Linked DNA regions of Homo sapiens: region 2 is linked to region 1. Evidence: fine-mapped expression QTL. A gene starts in region 1. The other region holds a variant in brackets. All regions are shown on one strand. Distances are from middle to middle. Region 1 holds the start of LYRM4 (LYR motif containing 4). Region 2 overlaps LYRM4 (LYR motif containing 4).

Region 1 (8,335 bases):
TCTCTATCTTCCACTATTCCTGTCCTTACTAGCGTCCTAATCTCTACTCTGCACTGTTGTAATCAACTCCCATTTGATGTCCTTGGCCCCTCAAAATCATCTTCTACACTGCTGCCAGAGTGATCTATCAGAAAATGCAAATCTGGTCATGTCAGGTTAGTGGCTGCCTGTGAGCTAAGGGTAAAGTCCAGGGTCCTCAGCACGGCCCCCAGGCCCTCAAATCAGTGGCCCTCTCCAACCTCAGTGCCTTCCTGTCACCGCCCCCCCAACCCCATCATACTTACCTCCCTGGCAGTGCTGTGCTGTTTGCCTGCCTGACCACACCAAGCTGCTTCATGCCTTTGATCCAACATCACCCCTTGGGAGGCCTTCTAGATTCCACACCTTGTACATCCTTCTGTCACAGCACTTAACCCAGTCTGTGACAACTATCTCTGTACCTGTGTCCCACATAGGCCTGTAAAGCCATTGATAACAGGTGCCTAGCTTAGTTCAAAAATCTCATCTTTCTCTCTCCAGGGCTTGGTATAGCAGGGGTCCCCAACCCATCAGTACTGGTCCGTGGCCTGTTAGGAACCGGGCCACACAGCAGTTGAGCGGTGGGTGAGTGCGCATTATGGCCTGAGCTCCATCTCCTGTCAGATCAGCGGCGGCATTAGATTCTCATAGGTGCACCTATTGTGAACTGTGCATGTGAGTGATCTAGGTTGCATGCTCCTTATGAGAATCTAATGCCTGATGATCTGAGGTGGAAGAGTTTCATCCCGAAACCATCCCCTCCCTTGACCCGGTCCATGGAAAAACTGTCTTCCATGAAATTGGTTCCTGGTGCCAAGAAGGTTGGGGATAGCTGTGATATAGCACTGGGCAAAGCATGCTTCAGAGATGTTTTGTAGAAGCACTGAGGTAAAAGAATGACACACAGCAATGAGACCTGTTTGGCTGGTGGGAGGGATGGGAGTGGAAGCTGTGGGATGAAGAGAGTTGGGAAAACTTTTGTTCAGAGAAGGTGACAATTGAGCTCAATCTTGAAGGAAGAGGGGGCACTCTAGACAGGAGTGATAAAGGGCCTGCTGGATAGAACAGTACTTGTAAAGGCCTGGAGGCCCAACAGGACGTGGCACATTTAGGAAACTGCAACTGATGATGACAGAGGACAGGATGCACATGTGGGACTTAGGCTGAGACTGGAGGAGCAGACAGGGCTCCTGCTATCAAAACGTGGCCTATATTATAGGTCTTGCAAGAGAGTTCCAAAGTATTTATTTCACTACTCTAATTACTTAAGGCACAATTCGCAGGTCATTAAAAAACGTTTACTAGTCTGCTTTTGATTGCTTATTCAGCACTACCTGTGTTAGTTTTGATAGGTAACTTAAGCTCCCTGTGCCTCAGTTGCCTTACAGGGTAATACAAATAGTACCTACCTCACAAGATTATTGTCAAAACAAATGTGTTAATAGACATGAAGAACATAAGATAGCAGTGGCACACAGAATTGATAGTGGATGTTGTGTTGCTATTGATTTGCCATCAGTGACAAACAGCTGCAGAGATTAGAGAGGAGGGAAGGGACTTTTCCTGAAATTCACAAGACACAGCCTTAATGTAAAAGGACGTATTTTTATAACAAGTAAGTTTATCTAGGGAGGTAATAGCAGGAATGTCGGTTTTTAGGTCTATGATCTCAGGTAACAGTATAAAATGATTATCAGATTCCTTTGGATAATATATTTATATTTGGATAGTAAATTTAGCTTAAAAGTATATGCTTAAGGTATAATTTGATCAATTATTTTCTGAATGCATATGATCTTACAGTTGCCCATACTGAAACCCATTTTCAATTTTCTGCCTTTCAGGTAGAGTCTTGAATGATTTTCCTAAAGTTTGAATGATTTTCCTGTTGAGTTTCGTGAATGATTTTCCTGTTCAGTTGGCAATTACTCATTTGAAAACGCTTGGGCCTCATTTGCTCATAAATCATTTCCAAAGAGAATTTCAGAAATGGAAGGGTCCTTAGAGATTGTCTAGTCCAACAGTCTATTTCATAAACAAGAAAACTGAAATACAGAGATTGAGAGACTTGTCCAAGTTAGTCTTCGAGGGCTCCACCTTGACTTTCTTACATGCTCTCACATAAACCCTCTCCCTGCCACTTTCCTTAGTGTGTGAACTGCCTGCTGATTCCAAGTCCTTGTGTATCCTGAGTAAGCTTTAATGACAAACTATTTTACTCCAGACTATGGTGAAATCAAATGGTTTCTATTTATTTAACTTGCATATTTCATGTGTTTCCTCAACAGACTTGGTTAAGTACTTGGTGCTAGGTGTTTGGTTAATTCTTGCTAAAATTCCACCAGTATGCTTATTATTACACTCTTTATTCTCCAAAGTCAAAGTCATTAAGTAAAATCATTCTCTCCCGTGAAATTTAACCACTTAACTGGGTGGATACAACCTCAGTGGTATGACCCAGATGCTGTTTTCAAATTTGCAGCATGAGTATATTTTCCAGGCGGGTTTCTAAAAATTTGAGAGTCATTGCTTAAGAGGCTTAGCGTTCCTGTCCTCTGACAGAGGTTGTACTGGGCAGACCCATCTCAGGGCCTGCCAGCTCACACACGTGCTGGAGGGGGGCCTACCTAACCAGGTGTGTTCCAAGGGTAGGCTCTGCTCTTATGACATCCAATCCACAGTCTGGCCAGTCACCTAAGTGAGGCTTGAGGTAAAGAGATGAGTTGATCCAACCAGATTCTTTCTCATGGGAATATGGCTCAAACTCAGAGAGAGACAGGTAGTTAGTAAAAACAAAACAAAACAAAAAACAAATCTAAAAAAAAATGCAGAGAGAGAATCCATAAGAAAATGATGGGTCAGAACCAGCAACACTGTGAAAGCAGAGGCTCTGAATTAGAAAAAACATACAAAGAGTAACAATAAAAGACTCATAGGCAAATAGGGGAGTGGGGAGGCGTGAGAAAAAGTGAATGTGTTATATTAAAGATGTGAGTTTAGGCCCTCAATATCCTGCTGTCAAGGTCCAGTAAGCGGGATCTCTGTCTGGTGAGCCAGGAGAAACTGAGGTTTCAGCTCCAAAGCTTGTGAGACCCTTTTTCCTTTTCCGCTACGCATTTCCACCATACCCTAAATAGAATGGATTCTTGCAACCAAAAGAACTCATTACGACACCTAGGAAATTTTAGGGAGGTGCTAGAGTGTGCCTTCAGCTTTGTCGCAGTGTACTACTCACTGGCCACTTCCACTCTCAACTCTTCCAGTGCTCAAGGGAAGTTTTACATATGCAACACACTGGCCTTAACTTCACAAATGACTGATTTCCATCCCTTTTTTCTCTTCTGCAGAAACATAACACTAATCATGCTCCTAGAATAACTACCAAGATAGCCTTTAGGGGGAAAACGTCACAAGACATGAACGTCTCCCCTGGTAGAAAGAAAGGCTCCTCCCCGAGGTCTCAGAGGCCACACCTGTAGGCAGGAGCACGCTTTTCGATGGCGGAGCCCGGTCCTTGCCTCGCAGCCGCCGGCAAACCACGGTGGCTCCCAGTCCCCGGGGATATTCCGCGTCAGCCCGCACCCCCGGTCCCCGGCCCCTGGCCCCCCGCCCCCGGCCCCCGGTGCCCGCTGGGTCACCTGTAATTGTAGGCGCTGAAACGCTTGCTCTCTCTCAGCATCGCCCGGTACAGAGATAACACTTGTGCGCGACTGGAGGCTGCCATTTTGGAAAGAAAAAAAAATAAACGGGTCCTCTTCGCCGAGGTCCCAAGTACGACCCAACCCACGAAACTCCAGCCTGTGCGGAAACCACGAACGAAATAAAATGCTGCGGCTCGGCTTTGCCAGCGGGCCGGGCCTAAGCCTAAGCGGGCAGCCCTGCGGATCGCGGACGGCGCCAGGCGTCCCGCGCCGCTTCGGGGGCGGGCGCAGGCAGGGCTCGGGGCAGCTAAGGGGGCGGTGCTGGGAGGGAGATGCCTCCGCCCCGCCCCGATCCCGCCCCCGCCCGGAGGCTCGGGACCCAGCAGCCGCTCCACGCGGCGGGAGGGCGGGGAAATAAGAGGACTGGCCGCCCGTGCATCCAGCCAAGCTCCTGGCGGACGGATATCGGAGGCCCAGGCATTCGAGGGACGTGCAGTTGCATCACGGAGAGCCTTTGGGAACCGTCTGGGGTCTTGGCGGAGACATTTGTGTTTCGGGGGCAGCGCCCCTTCCTACATCCAGGAGGCCGCGTTGCCCGGGTTACCGAAGGCCGCCGCACCGACGCCCCGCCCCTGACCGCCGATGCCCCTCCCACGCCGGCTGCGGTCGCCCTCGGCGCTGCCTGAGAGAGTTTGCGGGATTTCAAGGGTGACTTGATTTCGCCTGATCCTGGTCGGCAGGGTGGGGTTTCTTGGCATTCCTCAGGCCGGGGGATGCGACGTCTGGGTGTGGAGGTGATGAGCTAGGGGTTCTGTGGCACTCCGGCTCTGCTCAGGGCGACCTGCGTAGGGGCCTCTGGGGCAGGCCCGCTTTCTGTCAAAATGGCAGCGCCCAGCGTGCGCGGGTATCTCTGAAGTTGGGGTTTAAGATTCTTGCCCGTGAGAGCGAACGAGCCTGCCGTACTTCTGATTTTGAAACACCTGGGTCTGGGCTTCCCGGGCGAGCGGTGGGTGAGTGCCGGCCTCATTGCAGCCTGGGGTACGACGTGGGCGGTTGGTGTTGTAGGGGGTTTACATTGGCCGTGGATTTTTTCCTCTTTCCGGATGTGTTTTTGCTTTTGAGTGAAGAGTTCCCGTGGTTTTGTAACCTAATAAATGCATAAAATGCAGCTTGGGTTGTAGACTTTGGAGAATAATTAGAGACCTTTAGGGCTTTAGGCTTTCTCCAAGAAGCGGAGCAAGTTTTCAACCATGGCTTTCTTCAGAAGACTGCAGCTTTTTTGAATCATCTTATTAAAGTGGTGGATAAAGTTGCTTGTTCTGATCTTTGAGCATGGCACTGGACGCAGGAAGCTTCAGCCAGTCCTAGTTACTGTGTTTGCAAAGCACTTTTCTTGTTTTTGGAATCTTGCTTTATGTAATCAACCTTAGGAAGAACCACACCTTTCTGCACTCAAGCACAGCGAGAAGTACGTTATGCGTGAAAACAAAACAACTTTGCATTAAAATCCATCTTTCTCCGAACCACTTGGTCACGGTTGTGTTCTCATCTGCTTTAGTGTATTTGGTTTTGAAACGATATACCTGCTGTATGTCTAAACAACTTTATATTTTCAGGAACTTTTCTGTTTCCTTTTCTTTTTTTTGAGATGGAGTCTCGCTCTGTCGCCCAGGCTGGAGTGCAGTGGCGGGATCTCGGGCTCACTGCAACCTATGCCTCCCAGGTTCAAGCCATTCTCCTGCCTCAGCCTCCTGAGTGGCTGGGATTACAGGCGCGCGCTACCTCGCCCAGCTAATTTTTGTATTTTTAGTAGAGACAGGGTTTCACCATGTTGGTCAGGCTGGTCTCGAACTCCTGACCTCAGGCAATCCGCCCGCCTCGGCCTCCCAAAATGCTGGGATTACAGGTGTGAGTCATCACGCCCAGCCTCTATTTTCAGGAACTTTAAAGGCAGAAAAAACACTTCTCTGACCTTACCATTCTTTAGTGTACTTGCAACCTGGTGTCCTTGCATCCAGATATTCTTACTAATCCTGATGCAATGACATTTTTTAAAAGGCACTGAAGAGAAAATACTTTTATTAAGATATCTTTAAGTCTCCTCCCTGATTTCTTGAAAATCTCATGTCTGTTATTGTTTATTATTATTTTTTAAACAGGATAGCAAAACTTCTATTACTTCCTGGTTGGTCAGGTCATTGAGCAAATCTAGCCTCTGCTTTATTGAAAGGACTTTTTTGAGTTTTCCCTTTGCTATTTCTTAAAGGATCCAAGACCAAGGCAATTGCACATTGTTATAGAGTAAGATTCAGAGCTGATTTCTCTTGATACACTATTGTGTGCCAGTGATATGAAATGATATGCGGCACCTCAAAGCTACAACATTAATGCAAGTTACTGATAGAGAATGCTATCAGAGTGAAAAGGAAAAACTTGAAGATTATTTTGGCTTTTTTAAAAATAGCAAAGATTACATTATTTTATTATATTTTGCTTTTGAGAGTAAAGTTGGAATAATTACTATATACAATTGTTTCTACCTAATTATCAAGGAATTTAATCATTAACGTACATAATTAATGTATCTAAATTACTCAACTTTGTTGTAATCAAATAAAACTTTTCCAAATAAATATGTATAGTTTAAATAGTTTGGGTAGCTTAGTCCTCTGTTAGTACGAGCAATGGTTGCAGTTAGGAAAGTGATAGGCTTCCCAGTTAATTCTGAGCCAAGTCTTCATAAAAATACCTTATTATTTTATTTAAAATGGTTTACCAATGTGTTGGACATCATTGCCTGGAGAGGCTAAAAGAAAATAATCATTCCGTAGCTACATCTCACTTTTGCACATCTTCATTGCGGAGATGACTTAAAAAAAATAACTCGATTTGAGATTGTAAGTAGATTTGGGCCAGAAGCTGAAGAATGGACCTTACACATACGTCCTTTAATAGTCATTCTATTCTGGGTTGAAATTTTTCTTAGAGAGTATCTGTAAAACAGGAGGTACCATTTAGGCATCAAAACGTAAAAATTTCTTTAGTATTCATTTATCAAAAGTTATCGACTACCTGTAGTTCTTTATGGAAGATCATGTGTTACCTTCTATTAAAATTAGGGTTGTTAATGACCACTTAATGCTTTGTGAAGAGAAATTTCTCTAATCATAATAAACAGTGTAACAACAATTTACTGTCCTTAAGCTTAAATATCAAAATGATGTATAAAGTAAAATTTGTATAGTAGTAGTAACTTACGATATTATTTAGAAATTGTTCAGCTGGGCATGGTGGCTCACACCTGTAATCCCAGCACTTTGGGAGGTTGAGGCAGGTGGATTGCTTGAGCCCAGGAGTTTGAGACCAGCCTGGGCAACATGGCAAAACCCCATCTATACAAAAAATACATCATAGCGAAACCTCACCTCTACACAAAAAATACAAAAATTAACTGGGTGTGGTGGCATGTGCCTGTAGTCCCAGCTACTTGGGAGGCTGAGGTGGGAGGATTGCTTGAGCCCTGGAGGTTGAGGCTGCATTGAGCCATGATCACATTACTGCTCTGTAGCCTGGGCAACAGAGTGAGACCCTGTCTACCAAAAAGAAAAAACAACAACAACAACAAAAAGAAATTATTCTATTCTACACCACACATGAATCCAAGTATTATACATTGATCCTTCATTTTAATAGAACACGAAGGGGAAGGGGGAAGACCTTAGATATCAACTCATTCATTTGTACAGATGAACAAACTGAAGACTTTTTCCTCATTCGTTCATTCCTTCAGCATTTATTGAACACTTCCTAAGTACTATAGGTTATGGTTTTTCTTTTCTTTTTTCTTTTTTTTTTTTTTTGAGACAGAGTTTCACTCTTGTTTCTCAGGCTGGAGTGCAATGGTGCAATCTCGTCCGGCTAATTTTTTGTATTTTTAGTAGAGATGGAGTTTCACCATGTTGTCCAGGCTTTTCTTGAACTCCTGACCTCAGGTGATCCAGCTGCCTTGGCCTCCCAAAGTGTGGGGATTACAGGCGTGAGCCACCGCGCCCGGCCCATAAGTACCATATATTATATAAGATGATATAGTCACAGTGATGAGAGCTTCCCCACCCCTAAGAAACTTGTAGGTGACTAGATAAGCGAAACAATAATTTATTTTATAGAGACAGGGTCTCTGTTTACTAAGCTGGAGTGCAGTAGTGCTATCATATCTCGTTGTAACTTCAAACTCCCGTGCTGAAGTGATTTTCCTGCCTCAGCCTCCTGAGTAGCTAGGCCTATAGGCTCATGCCACCATGCCTGGCAGATTTTTAAGTGTTTTTTTTTTTTTTTGTAGAGATGAGATTTCACTATGATGTCCAGGGTGGTCTCAAACTCCTCAGTGCCTCTCCTGTCTTGGCTTCCCAAAGAGCTCAGATTATAGCTGTGAGTCGTGGCACTTGGCCAATAATTTCTTTTTGACAGTTGCTGCGATATGAGTAATATTAGTAAACGCTAAAGGAATAGGGAAGAGGAATATTGAACCAGGAGTTTCACCTATGGGAAGGCTTTCCATCGTAGAAGGTGTTTCCAGAATGAGAAGTAAAAGCCAGATGAGGAATGTGGTTAAAGATTGCAGTGTATATCCAAGCATGGAGGAAGAAGGGTGCTTGATCTATTTAGAGAACTCTTAA
Region 2 (8,335 bases), 120 kb before region 1:
CATCTCAGCTACAGTTGTTTTCAGAAATGTGAGTTCAGGATATTAACGAGTAATGCTGAGCAAAGAAAATCACAAGCCAACCACCTCTTGGATCACATAAGTGGAACTTACCTTTGTGAAGCACCATGGGGAGCCGTAAACCCCTTGCCCAGTTTCTTTTGAGTTTACTCAGATTTAGCCAGAAAAGGAAGCTGGCTGAAGCAAAAGAGAACTAGAACTCCCATCTCCGTTTAACCTATTTGCAACTCTGCCAAGGCTGCAGAGCCAGCAGCAGCTGTGGCCTATCAGTGCTCATGAGAAGTGAGTCTTGCAAGGAAATGACATTTCCTTCCCAGGGTAGGGAAGCACGCACTGCTGAGATTCTACGGGTATGACGGCAGCACCAGCCACTGCAGGACAAAGATGACTAGAGAAGGTTCGCCCGCCTCCCCAAGGAATCAGGACTGGTTACTTTGTCTCTTTTTGTTACTGTTGTTGTGTTGGGCAGGGTGTGTGTGCTGGGCAGCCTGAGGGCCACTTGTCCCCGTGCTGCCATCTCACGGGTGAGGCTATGGGTGGCACTGTTTTACACATCTATATGGTAGCTAGAAACAGAGGGCTCTTTCCTCTCACATAAAAGCAAAATCAAGATGATCGATCGTTTTCTTCTTAGGTTTTCCTAAATTTTATTTTCTAAAAAAGGAGAGAACATTTTTTGTGACTGTAGGCAGCAGATTCCTGACAGCGTCTGCTGTCTGACAGGAGTGCAAAAGACATAGTTATCCTTTAGAATACAGAAGCAAACTTGCACGGGCTTAAATCTAGCACGCCACCACCACCTGTGAGGAAGGCTCCAAAGACACGATCCTGACCCGTCCAGCCTCTGTCAATGATTCCAAACCTTGCGTGTACACTGGCATCCCTTGGAGGGCTTTAGAATATTCTGATGCTCGGGTCACACTTAAGAGATTATTAATTACTTGGTCTGGGGTGTTTTTATACATCAGAATTATAAAAAATTGTGGTAAAGTTCACATAACATAAAATCATTTAAACCACTTCAAAGTGCGTAATTCAGTGGTATTAAGTACCTTCATAACTGTACAATCATCAACACTATTTAGTTCTGGAAATTTTCATCACCCCCAAAAGGAAACCCCATACTCATTAAGCAGCCCCTCCCTGTTTTCTTATTTTCCCAGCCTCTGGCAACCACTAATCTATGTTCTGTTTCTATGGGTTTCCGTAGACATGCAGATGAAATCATATAATATGTGGCTTTTGTGTCAGGCTTCTTTCATTTACCGCAGTGTTTTCAAGGTTCATCCAGGTTGTAAACACGCATGAGTACTTTGTGACTTCTAAGGATGAATAATATTCCATTGCGTGGAAATACCACATATTGTTGACCCTTTCCTCAGCTGAAGGATATTTGGGTTGTTTCCATCTTTTGGCTATTGAAAATAGTGCTGCTGTGAACATACGAATACAAGACTGTGTCTGAACCTGTTTCCATTCTTTTGGAGTGAAATTGCTGGGTCATATGGTAATTCTATGTTTAACTTATTGAGGAAGTGACAAGCTGCTTTCCACACATGTCAGGATTTTACAAGCTTCCCAGGTGAGTGTAATGTCTGGCCAAGGCTAAGAACCTAGTTGGTTAAGATAGAGCTTTCAGTTTTTATGTAAGATAAGCAAGAAAACCAAGATAAAATCAGCAAAATCCAGACAAAAGAACTGACTTCTTCAGCAAATAAATTATAAGGAAAAAGAAGAGCAAGGAAGAAAAAAAGATACAGATGGGGCCTATAGATTTCTTTTAAAGACAGATTACAGACAGATCACCCAGTTTGAAGATTGGTGATATTTGTGAGACATTAAAATTTAAACACTTTGTATTTGATGATATTAAGGAATTAGCATTATTTTGTTAGTTATGATAACGGTATCATAGCTATGTTTTAAAAAGAATCATCTTTTCAGATATGTACCAAAATAGTTTAATATGAAAACGAATACACAGTTTCTCAAAACAATACGGGAGAGCATGGGTAGGCGTAAGGATGAAAAATACCATCTATTGATATTACAGAGTATCTAACTCTTAAAGATGGGTGATGGATACACAGGACTCATTTGACAATTCTACATACTTTTGTATATTTTCACATTTTTCCATAATAACAGGTTAAACAGCAAAAAGTCTTCGTCATTGCAACTAACAAATTGGGGAAAATGTCATCAAATGTCTATTTAAGAGATCTCATCCCTATTCCTTCTCCTTCCTCTCCCTTGGTAACGGCACTCCTAGGGCTGTGGAGGGTGCGGTTCACTCCTGGGACTGTGGAGGGTGCGGATCACTCCCGGGACTGTGGAGGGTGCGGATCGCTCCCGGGGCTGTGGAGGGTGCGGATCGCTCCCGGGGCTGTGGAGGGTGCGGATCGCTCCCGGGGCTGTGGAGGGTGCGGATCGCTCCCGGGACTGTGGAGGGTGCGGTTCACTCCCGGGACTGTGGAGGGTGCGGATCGCTCCCGGGACTGTGGAGGGTGCGGATCGCTCCCGGGGCTGTGGAGGGTGCGGTTCTCTCCCGGGGCTGTGGAGGGTGCGGTTCACTCCCGGGGCTGTGGAGGGTGCGGTTCACTCCCGGGGCTGTGGAGGGTGCGGTTCACTCCCGGGACTGTGGAGGGTGCGGATCGCTCCTGGGGCTGTGGAGGGTGCGGTTCACTCCCGGGACTGTGGAGGGTGCGGATCGCTCCCGGGACTGTGGAGGGTGCGGATCGCTCCCGGGGCTGTGGAGGGTGCGGTTCTCTCCCGGGGCTGTGGAGGGTGCGGTTCACTCCCGGGGCTGTGGAGGGTGCGGTTCACTCCCGGGACTGTGGAGGGTGCGGATCGCTCCTGGGGCTGTGGAGGGTGCGGTTCACTCCCGGGACTGTGGAGGGTGCGGATCGCTCCTGGGGCTGTGGAGGGTGCGGATCGCTCCAGGTGTGATTTTCATGGGAATGGAACTGGCTCCCTAGGTGGTGTTCATTTCCTCTGGATGCCTCAGGCCTGTCTCCTCCAAAGACGAGAACTTTCTTTTAAGTTTTCCTGCTAAATATACTCAAAAAAGCTTTCTAGCTCTAGACTTTCAAACACACACAATACTGATGTGTATGTGTGTGTGTTAAATACACAAAACACAACATTTATCATTTTATTCATTTTAAGTGTACAGCTCTGTGGCATTAAGTACATTCACATTGTTGTACAACCATCAACAGCATCCTTCTCCAGAATCTTTTCATTTTCCTCCACTGAAACCCTGTAGCCATTAAACACTAACTCTCCATTCTCCCTCCCCTCCAGTCCTTGGCAACCGCAATTCTACTTTCCGTCTGTAGGGGGACTCTAGGGACCGCCGTAAGTGGAATCATACAGCATTTGTTTCTTCTATGGCTTATTTCACTTAGGACAATGTCGTCAAGGTTCACCCTTGCTGTGGCGTGTGGCGGAATTTCCTTCCTCTTTAGGGCTGAGTAACATTCCATTGTACGGCTGTACCACATTTTGTTCATCCAGGCGTCTGTTGAGGGACACTGGGTTGCTGTTGTGAATAATACTGCTCTGAACACTGGTGGGCAAGTATCCTTTTGAGTCCCTGCTTTCAGTTCTCTGGGGTATATACTGAGAAATGGAATCACTAGATCATTTGGTCATTCTATTCAATACTTTTAAAACCAAATCAGTATTCTTCTAAATGATAACTTGTCCCCTTTCCTGCTGCCTTTTTGACTGGGGCTGGGTTGAGGGTGGAGAAGCGGGAAGACACGATAATGTAGTACTTAAGAGCCTGGGGTTTGTCCCAAGACAAACCTGGTTTAAACACCTGCTCTGCCAATCACTGGCTCCGAAACCTTGGGTTTCACCTAACCCTGTAGTCTCAGTTTCCTTACCTACAGAATGGGATAATGTCAATTTTACATAAGTTAGATGGTATTTATAATGTCTTACTACAATGCCTGGCACACAGCTTTCAATTAATGGCTTCTAGTAATCGATTACTTCCATTTCAACAATCCCAGGTGTTGTCAAAGAAGGTGGCATTTACAAATGAGTCCCACAGGTCCTAGCCACAGTCTGTGGTAATGACATGCTAAACCGCCCCAAGGAGCAGCGCCTGTAGGAAGACTGGGTAGACTTCCTTCCTTTCCTGTGGCAGAGGGCTCCGCACAGAAGAAACTCTGGTCTCTTCCTGATGTCTCTTAACAGCTTTATGGAGATATAATTCATACACCATCAAATCTATCCAATTAAAGTGTACAATTCAATGGTTTTTAGTATATTCACAGTTGTGCATCCATTACCACAATCAATTTTAGAGCATTTTCATTACCCCCAAGGAAACACTACTCATTAGTCGCCTTTCAAATGTCCCATCCTCTCTAGCCCCTGGCAACCGCTAACCCACTTTCTGTCTCGATGCATTTGCCTATTTTGGCCATTTCACAGAAACGAAATCACACAATGCGTGACTTTTTGTGTCTGGCTTCTTTCCCGTAGCATAATGTTCTCAAGGGCCATCCGTGTTCTAGCATGTATCAGTACTTGGTTCCGTTTTACCACCAATAATATTTTTATTGTATGGCTATACCACATGTTGCTCATCCATTTATTATCTGATGGCCATCTGGGTTGTTTCCACTTTTTGGCTATTGCTAATAAGGTTTCAATAAATATTTGCATATAAGTCTTTGTGTGGACACGTTTTCATTTCTCTTGAGTATACATGTAGGGGTGGGATTGCTGGATCACACTACCTCTTCTTTTTAAGCCCCAACATAGAATGGTTGCTTCTAGGACCTGTCAAGAGATTCTCAGACAAGCAAAAACCAAGCTCCTGGAG[T/C]TGGCCCCACTCCTCCACTTAGTGAGAAGCTTACAAAGGTGTTCAGATTTGTACTCTGTAATCTCACTGCATTGATACTGAACATCTTCTTTGAGCTCAGTTCCTCCTCACAGAGGAACTCTAGTGTCCTTTAAATAATGACTCTGCTACCCGGCTAGTGATATGCCTCTATCTGTATTTAAGATCATTTCCCCTGAATGATGGAGATTTTAATATTCTGCATCTAATGTCCTGTGACTCTATCTGAATAATTAAAACCACCCAGTTGATTGTTGCCCTATTCTCAAAGACAGGATTCCTGCTCTTTTGTAGACATCTCCACTCAGGTCACACACTGGAGTAAGAGTTGACAGGCTTTGTCCTTGCAAGCTGCCTGTGGCCCACCACCCAAATTATCCTCATGTGAATGTATTTTTGAGGGAGGATATGGAGCATTCATCCTGCCATTTTTGCAAACCACAATAGCCAAGTCTTCTCACCCCTTTCCACTGTGTTACTCAGAGGCCTGAGGTGGTGCAGAGTTCACTTTGCCTTTGGTCAAAACGTACTGGGGAAGGTGGTGGCTCCACAAGTTGCAAAGAAAAATACAATGGTGCTGTCTTTCAGCAGGTCAAAAAGGATTCTATAAAGACTAATGGTAGACAAGGGGCACTGAGGAGGATTCATGAAAGTAAATTTCATGATGACAAAAGAAGACATTTCTGCCAAGATTTTATATATAGAAGATATTCAAAGGCCAGGTGTGGTAGTGCACACCTGTAATCCCAGCACTTTGGGAGGCCAAGATGGGCAGACTGCTTGAGCCTAGGAGTTTGAGACCAGCCTGGGCAACATGACAAAACCCTGTCTCTACAAACAATACAGAAACTAACTGGGCATGGTGGCACACGCCTGTAGTCCCAACTACTCGGGAGGCTGAGGTGGGAGGATCACCTGAGGCTGGGGAGGTTGAGGCTGCGGAGAGCCGTAATCATGCCAACTGTACTTCAGCCTGGGCCAACAGAGTGAGACCCTGTCTCCAAAAAAAAAAAAAAAAAAAAAAAAAAAAAAATCGATAGTTTTTCTTACTTAAAGAATTTTTATCAGTAGCCAGTAAGAATAATGACTGTTTTTTTTATGAATGATTTCCAGACTAAGTCACAAGAAAACCTTATATACTATGACATCTGTATATTAAGGAATTCTAACATGCTCCCCACTGAAAACACAAGAAAATATCAAGATGCAATAGAAAACAAACCTGGTGGCAGACAATGACTATGGACTTTATGCCTGGGGGTAAAAAGAGAAAAAAATAAAAGTTAAGAGTAACAGTTAACAGAAAGAAAGAGTTCTTTGGGATTTCAAACAGAAGCAAGTGCTAGAGGTGTTTAAGACAGGTTAAAAGCTAGAAATGAGATTAATCCTTTAGACATAGACATTTTGCTCTTCACAATCAGGTTAATACTTTGAAGTCTTAAAGAAAGTCTTTCGAGCAATCAGAGGACTTCAAAGTGATTGTTGCACATAAGCCTAAGAGAATTTGATCTCAAAAGAAGAGTAATATTGATGTTCGTTGAGTACCTACTATGTTCTAGGCACTTATGCTAGGTACTTTGTAGATGTAATTGAATGTCGTCCTTGTTAACACTCTCTGGAAATAGGTTTTGACATCTCTGCGGTAGGGAGAAGAAGACAGGCCTGGAGAGCATAAGTAGCTTGTTCTGAATGACAATAGCTGGTGAGCGGCAGGGCAAAGCAGGCCTGCCAGCCCAGTGCCTCTGATCTTCCCAGGCACCGCTGCATTTCCACCTCGCTAACTGGAGAAATACCAGCAACTCTGGAAACATGGTGAGCATATCATATCCAGAACTCTGACCAACGAAGGCGCAGGCTTCATTCAAAGTTAGGCAACAGAATATTAAGGTTCATTCATGACACAGGTCACACTGTATTTACAAATACAAACTGGAGTAGGACAATGAGGAGTATCAGATAAAAGTTAATGTTTGGCTCGATTTAAAACAGTAGCACTTGACTGGTTTTCGACACTTTTGCTATGATTGTGTTTAATATTAACAAGATATTGTTAAATTAAGTTTGGCCTAAAGCTGCCTCTTTACATATTTTAAAGGTTTCTGTGTATGCAGTGAACTGTAACCTAACTGGATGTGTACACAGACTATAATCTACTCTTGTGCTGATCACTGAGCTTTGGCTATAGGCAGCCAATTGTTCAAACTGTGCTCAAATAAGGCAAACAACTGAACTGTCGCCAATCTGGCTGTTTTAGCACCTCATTTCCATTTTCCGTACATCACTTTCCTTTTTTTGCCTATAATTTTTCTTCCAGGCTGGGGCGTGGTGGGTCATGCCTGTGACCCCAGCACTTTTTTCTTTTTTTTTTTTGAGACAGGGTCTTGCTCTGTTGCCCAGGCTGGGGGGCAGTGGTGTGATCACGGCTCACTGCAGCTTTGGCCTCCCAGGCTGAAGCGATCCTCCCACGTAAGCCTCCCAAGCAGCTGGGACAAGCACACCACCAATTCCCAGGCTGAGGCAGGTGGATCACTCGTGCCCAGGAGTTCGAGACCAGCCTGGAAAACATGGTGAGACCCTGTCCTCCCCAAAATACAAAAATTAGTGGGGCATGGTGCTGTGCCTGTCCCAGCTACTTGGGAGGCTTAGGTGGGAAGATCACTTAAGCCTGGGAGTCCCAGGCTGCAGTGAGCCGTGATCGCACCACTGCCTCCCAGCCTGGGCAACAGAGCGAGACCCTGTCTCAAAAGAAAAAAAAACCTTTCACCACGTGACTGTGCTGGAACCTCTGTGAGCCTATTCTGGTTCACAGGCTGCCTGATTTGCAAAGTGTTATTTGCTCAGTTAAACTTGGTTAAATTTACTTTGTCTAAGGTTTGTCTTTTAACAATACTTAAAAAAAAATAAAGCTTAACTAAAATTTGAAAAGATTGAAAAAATCTGTTTGGAGGAAGGAACATTTAAACCTGTATAATGAGTATTTCCAAAGTACATAAGGCTGTGGCGTTGAAGGACACCAACACAAAGGTTTAGACAAACTATGATGTGCTCTCTGTACTTTACAAGTAGAAAGTACTTAAGTGCATTACAGGTATGCACAGTGTGTGGCTGAGGATCCCGTTTCTGGAACCTGGAGTTGGGCTCGGGAAAGTCAATTTGTGCTTCAACTTGATCTGCACTTGGGAACATGTAAGGCTTATCATTTCCTAGATTCTTAACCATTCAACAAAAGCATGTTAAAAATGTAACATACATGCTGAAAAATGGTTAAGAAGGTAAACTTTATGTTACGTATATTTTGCCACTATGAAAAATAAAAGAGGTAACACGAACTGAAACCAAAACGTAGACTTTCCTTTTTCCTAGACTGTGAGCAGTACTGCCTTCCTTATGCCACTTCCACCTCCTAAATAACCAACCAAATGGATTTAAAAGCCTTCCAACTTGTTGTTCAGGTGT

The links. PIP is the estimated chance that this variant, and not a neighbour inherited with it, causes the effect.
Region 2: its variant is fine-mapped to the expression of LYRM4 in prefrontal cortex (ROSMAP, PIP 0.95).

What each region holds. Positions count from the first base shown.
Region 1 is chr6:5,256,992-5,265,326 of GRCh38, forward strand. LYRM4 (LYR motif containing 4) reads right to left here and starts at 3,959. Exons shown (of 3, transcript NM_020408.6): 1 at 3,657-3,959. The coding sequence starts at 3,742. It overlaps FARS2 (phenylalanyl-tRNA synthetase 2, mitochondrial), which reads left to right and starts at 4,522. Exons shown (of 7, transcript NM_006567.5): 1 at 4,522-4,669. RefSeq lists an enhancer at 3,190-3,239 and silencers at 3,450-3,759, 3,820-4,039.
Region 2 is chr6:5,132,607-5,140,941 of GRCh38, forward strand. The region is part of intron 2 of LYRM4 (LYR motif containing 4); the gene reads right to left. All of the region lies in intron 3 of LYRM4-AS1 (LYRM4 antisense RNA 1), which reads left to right. Among named protein-coding and RNA genes, the nearest start is that of MIR3691, 12 kb to the right of the region's middle. RefSeq lists a silencer at 6,949-7,243. The variant T/C (reference allele first, on the strand shown) is at 4,862.